Linked DNA regions of Homo sapiens: region 2 is linked to region 1. A link means that fine-mapping ties the variant in region 1 to the expression of a gene that starts in the linked region. Tissue or cell type: whole blood. Region 1 holds a variant in brackets; the other region holds the start of a gene. All regions are shown on one strand. Distances are between the middles of the regions.

The links. PIP is the estimated chance that this variant, and not a neighbour inherited with it, causes the effect. A credible set is the group of variants that fine-mapping cannot tell apart.
Region 2: SLA starts here. The variant in region 1 is the best candidate, but not a certain one, in a credible set for the expression of SLA in whole blood (TOPMed, PIP 0.77).

The regions. Positions count from the first base shown.
Region 1 is chr8:133,035,964-133,038,879 of GRCh38, forward strand. All of the region lies in intron 41 of TG (thyroglobulin), which reads left to right. It overlaps SLA (Src like adaptor), which reads right to left. Exons shown (of 9, transcript NM_001045556.3): 9 at 765-2,774. The coding sequence ends at 2,561. Among named protein-coding and RNA genes, the nearest start is that of MIR7848, 9.2 kb to the right of the region's middle. The variant G/A (reference allele first, on the strand shown) is at 1,804.
Region 2 is chr8:133,101,555-133,104,470 of GRCh38, forward strand. SLA (Src like adaptor) reads right to left here and starts at 1,048. Exons shown (of 9, transcript NM_001045556.3): 1 at 999-1,048. All of the region lies in intron 43 of TG (thyroglobulin), which reads left to right.

The DNA.
Region 1 (2,916 bases):
CTGCAGGACCTTCCTGATACCTCCTAAGCACACTCCCTCCTTCCCTAGCTCCCTCAGTCTGGCCACCCTGCCTCCTTTTAGCTCCTTCAGCATGCAGTCTTGCTCTTCCTGCCTGCAGGAATTGCCCCATTATTCCTGCTGACTCCATACACTTCCTAGATCTTTACAAGGCTGTTTGCTGCTCATCTTTCAGGCCTCAGCCCAAACATTGCCTCTGCTTGGAGGCCTTTCCTAAGCCTGGACCTGAAGGATGTCCTGCCTGCCAGGTGACTGCTTGGAGCCTGCCCTCATCCTCATCACCATCATTACCAAGCATCTTGTTTATTTATGATGTCAAGCTCCATGATATCAGAGACCTCATCTGGTTTTCATTGCTATAGCCCCAGTACCTGAGCAGTGTCTATTTAGTAGGTGTCCAGAAATATCTGCAGAAAGAAATTCTTGGAAGAACAAATAGCGCAGCTATCACAAGTAACGTGCAGAAAATCTAGGCAGGACGTTTTTATAACAATCGTTCAGAATTTGGTGTTTCCTTCAATCCCTTAGGCCCATCTTCAAGTTTCGTAAGACACCCCCCAGAGTCATACAATCTGCTTTTTCTTAAGGTCACACCTAAAGAAGATGCTGAGCTGCTAACTGGCACCAGGTTTCTCTGGGTGATCTTTACTCCTCTCTCTCTAGTTGCACGTTTATTTGAAAATTTGAAACCCACTGAGCTTCTGAATGAACCACCCATCCTCCTCAACCCAGAAACTCTCCCTGTGTGCCAAGGGTTAAATATTTATTAGGTTTGTTTTAATCAGGAATAAATACATGATTTAGCAAAGTGTAATGCTTCCCACTGAGAAATCCCTCTGGGTGCTCCCCAAATGTTCCAATCACATTCGTCACAACGGAAAACAACACATAAGATACTGTGCAGACATCTGGAGTTCAGGGGGTCACCCTGCCTTATGCGGGAAGTCAATGTCCACAGTGTTACATTCATTTCTCATACGTTGGCTGGTTCCTTTGAAATAGCCTTTTGGAACGGTTGGGGAAACCACAGATGTCTCCTTGTATAAACACACTAGAATCTATGATACAGAAAACTGTGTAACTGCACATACACATACCAGTAGCACGATGAGCTCAGATGGACGGAATGCTTATGTGAGCAGACAGACAGGGAGAGATACTGCAAGCATGTTCCCCTCCTTCCCCAGGATCCCTTTGAAACAGGGAAACATGAGTCACAGATTCATCTGCAGCCCACTCTCTTCCTAGTAGGATTTGGATGGGAGCTTCTCCTTCTCTGGCTATACATTGTGTTTTCTCCCTTGTCTCTTAAAATTATGCATGACATCATTAATCCACTTGGACTCCCCATCTTTCCTGGAGCTGAGCATTTTTCCTCATATGGATGCCAGACCCTTCTTAGAATAAAGTACCGGGTGAGTTAATTCTTTAGACTGTATCCATTTCTTTTCTAAAAAATCCAGCTATTCTTACCTACCCGATCCAGCCAGCCCTTCCACTCTGAAGAGCAGCTGGAAAATGAGCTCCTGAGTGTCCCTCACCTGTCTCTAATTCCATCCTAAGCCATGAGCTGATTTCTCTTTTTACACATTTGTTTATACATTTTTTCCCTGTCTACACTGTGAACACCTCTGTTGGGGGTTAGGACTTACGCATCTTTTTTTTTTTTTTGGCTTGCCTGACACCTTACAGAGGACTTAATGCAATGCCTATTCGGGCAATAAATGAATACTTGATGCATTCATACAGGCAAGAATCCCAGCATCCCAGAGAAGCTCTGTCTGC[G/A]CTGCAAAGCCATGGCTGCAGACATCAGGGAAGCTGGTGCAGTTCTAGTCTCGCCTCCTCGATTTCCCTGCCAGCAGTCTTCCTCTCTCTCATTCTTCTGGCCCTCTGCAGAACCAGGGAGGCCAACTGACTTCCACCCATATGGCTTTGGTGCAGGAGCAGACCAAAGGTATCTCCCAATTGAAGGCTAAGAAGTCCTTTGGGCTAATGTTTAGTGTCACGAAGTTCCTTTAAAAAGAGAGGAAAGCATACCAGAAGTCCCTATGGATTAGTTAAAGTAGTTCCATTCAGGGCACCCATCTGCAAACCCAGACCTTCTGCCAGGACACAGCTTTTGTTTCCTCTCCCTCTCAGGCTTGCCCATACAGAAGTTCTCTCCAATGACCTTGGAGTGTAACTGTCTGGACAGGTCCAGTTCCTTGGAGAGCAGTCCTGGTGCCCTTTCTTGTGAGAGTGGCTTTGTCCTTCCCACACACACAATGTGTGCATACATACATGCTGGGCTCTTCCAAGCATCGCCCGACATGTCATGATCCAATGTTTCGTGATGCCACAGCCCTGATCAGACACCAGGGAGGGGTTCCTTTGGTCATGATGTGGATAGAGAAGATGCGAATTTGAGTCTCCATGTGGCTTCTCTTGGCTTCTAAAATACGTGAGGCTCCCAGGGATCAGGGAACCTCGCTTTTCGCAAGATCCCAGGCAATAGTTGGAACTTCTGTTCCTTTTGGGCATGAACCATTGTGTCTGTTCTTGGCTAGTCCTCAAAGTAAGGTGGTGATGAGAAGAATGAGCTCTTTCTCTTGCTGCCACCATACATCAGGGAGATGCTTTTCTTCTTTCGATCAAAGGAGGTGTTGTCCTCACTGGTCAGGGACAGGTAAGAGGCAATGCTCTCTCGAAGGCCATAGCTGAAAAGGGACTCGTCTACCCCAAGCGGGTTCTCTGTTCCCTCGGGGTCCTCCTGCAGTCTGTGGGCCAGAAGAAAAGGCAGTAGAGAAAGGGAAAAAAAGAGAGTCATAGAGAGAGGAGGAGATAAAGGGCAAGAGAATGAGAACAGGAGGAAAAGAAAAACAAAAATCCTGGTGACTATTTCTCTAACTTATTATTATT
Region 2 (2,916 bases), 66 kb after region 1:
TGAGAAACAGGACATATCAATTGCAGTAAATTGCCACATCCACCTAAACAGGGTGTCCAGCATGTTTTTGTAACACCAACACCTGTTTGTTTAGTCATGCTGGGCCAGGTGTTTCAGCATAAAATACAAATTGAATTCCTCCCCTCAGAAGGGCTTGCAGTCAGATGATAACAGACAAGGCAAACAACTGAAACACCATTGATACATACTATATGGAGAGATGGACATCTATTCCAAGACCTCAGGAGGTGGAGATCAGGTGCCATTGGGCCCCATAGCAGCACTGTCAGCTGGAGTGACACAATGGCCAGGAACTGACCAGGACCCCGCTCCCTTGGTCATGTGTCAACACAGCAGGGAGAGTGTCCTGGGTGTCCTTGGATTGCAATCACGAGCATCCAAGTTACCCAGAGTCTGAGCCTCAGTTTCCCTATCTGTGAAGTTGGGAGATGATTAGTAAATATCCTCATAAAGATGTTCAAAAATTCAAATACACAACAATATCTGGAAAATAGTTTGGCTTCAATAAATGTTCGTTCTTTTCCCTTAATTTTTTAATTTTAATATTAAGATTAGTGTCCAAAGCTGTTATCCCTTCTTCAGATAATTATACACAGAAAGCAGGAATACAAAGAACGTCCAATCTCTGAACCACCTCAGCTGACCTGAGACCAATTTTCCAAATTGTAGTAAACACAAATGCATGCTCTCTACTCATGCCAACGCTGCATAAGTATCAGCTGGATCCCAGTCCACAAACACATGCAGTGCAGCTTCCCAGGGAAGTCACGGAGGGACAGGAGTGGAGCCTCTTACCCCAAGTCCTGCCCCCTGGAGCTACTCACCACCAGCAGAGACCCACCCATTTTCTTCAGACCAAAGACGGAGGGTGGGTACAGGATCCATCAAGTCCCTCTGAAGACCCTCCCCCACATACCACCCCAGGCCACCTATGGCCCACCCAGGGGGTCCCAATGACAGCAAAGTTAGCAACCTACCGGTGGAGCATCAGGGCTGCCTGAGATGTTCTCCATTCGCAGCAAATGATCTTATTTTCTGAAGTAGCAGCTTTCTATTGAAATTCTTCATCAGTCGCTGTCATGGGGAATTTCTCCCCCTTTTCTCTTTCTTTCTAACTGGTGAAATTGACAGTCTGCCTACATTATCCAGGCATTCATTTGCATGATCAAAAGCAGATTTGTTCCAAGATGCAATGTTCTGCCTTCCCTTCCAAGCACAGGCATCTCCAAGGAAGGCGAGAAAAATCAGAAACAGAGCGCCTCCGCTGTGCCCCTAAGCTTGGCCAGGAGTTGGCCTCGTCTGGGAGCAGGTGGAGTGGGGGCCCTGTGGGTAGCAGTAGGGGGAGGGCAGCCCATGTGGGAGTTGGAAAGCAGCACCTGGCAGCCCGAGGCGCTGGCACGAGCCCCAGCACAGGAATATCCAGTCTTTGGTGACAGATTATAGTAAGAGGAGTATGCAGGAGTTTCCAGTGTGTGTGTGATTTCCTGAAAGGAGGCACTGCTGCCTTAAATCCCCAGCACTCAGGGACGGGAGGGTGTTAGGGTCTGAACCCAGGGCATCGCGGGGACCTGGATTCAGAAAAATGGGTCACAATTCTTAGCTTTAGCCACACGATGTAGGAGAGTTGCTGAACTGGTCTGAGCTGCAGTTTCTTTAGCCTTCAAATGGACACAGTGAGAGCCACCCTGTCTGTCTCTTGCAGTGTTATAAGAAGCGAAAGAGGTATCTCCCAACACCCAGAGAGCCCTGTAGGTCTCATGGCTCTAGGATGCCCTTGCACACTGTAAACCCTCCACCCTGGAGCTATAGCCCCACATTACCCCTCACAGCTGACGCTTACACGTCACGTTGTCTAATTCTCCCCAGGGGCCCTGTGAGCTGGGATTATGGTTCAGAGAAAGCTGAGGATCAGAAGGACTGACTTGTCCCCCCCAAAATATTAAAATATTGTATTTCATGACTGCATTGTTATAAGGATGAATGTAAACCAGGCTGGATTCATTATTACATTTTCATTATTATTATATTTTTTCTTCTGATTTTAAAAGAAATTAGAAAGAAAAGACTTTTGTGAGTTCCTAAAAGTGCAGTGAGCCCTTGGCCCTGAGCAAGCTGTGCTTGATGGAGAAGTAAGTCCTTGTCCCTTAACACCATAAGGAGCAGTGAAGTCAGGAGTCATTCAAGCATTAACCCATGCAGCATCTCTCCAACATAGATTATTCAGAGGCTTCTGTGCGCTGGACTCTCTCTAGGCTTTAGAGGGCACAGTTGTAACCTAAACAGATAAAGCTTCTGACTCGGAGAGTTCATGTTCTCATGAAAGGACACAGATGATGTAAGTAAATAAAGAATTTCAGATCTTAGAAATGCCCTGAAGAACACTGAAGTGGGGCCATTGCAGAGGAGGCGATGGAATGGGGCAATTACTTTAGGGGCAGTCAGAGAAGGCTTTTCGGAGGAGGTGACTTCTGGACTGAGGCCTGAGCAATGGGGAGCCAGCGATGGGGATTGAGGTACAGAGTGGGTGCAAAGGCCCTGGGGCAGGAGTGGTCCTGGCTGTTTGGGGGTCACAGGGAGGTCAGTGCTAGGAGATCCAGTGGCCAGTGGAGGGACTGGGAGGAGAGGAAGTCAGAGGGATGAAGAAGACCAGTTATGAGATCTTTCAGGCCATCAGAAAAGTGACTTTATTCTCCTTGCAGTGGGCAGTTACTGGAATGTTTCAAGCTAATAATAGAAGGTGATTATATTGATCCACTGTTTTAAAAAGGAACATTTCTGGCAGCTATATGGAAAATTGACTAAGGAGATGTGTGACCCAGGAAGTAGAGATCAGATTGGGCTCTATTGTGGAAATCCAGGGGTTGAGCTAGTAACTTAAATTAGGGTTGCAGACAT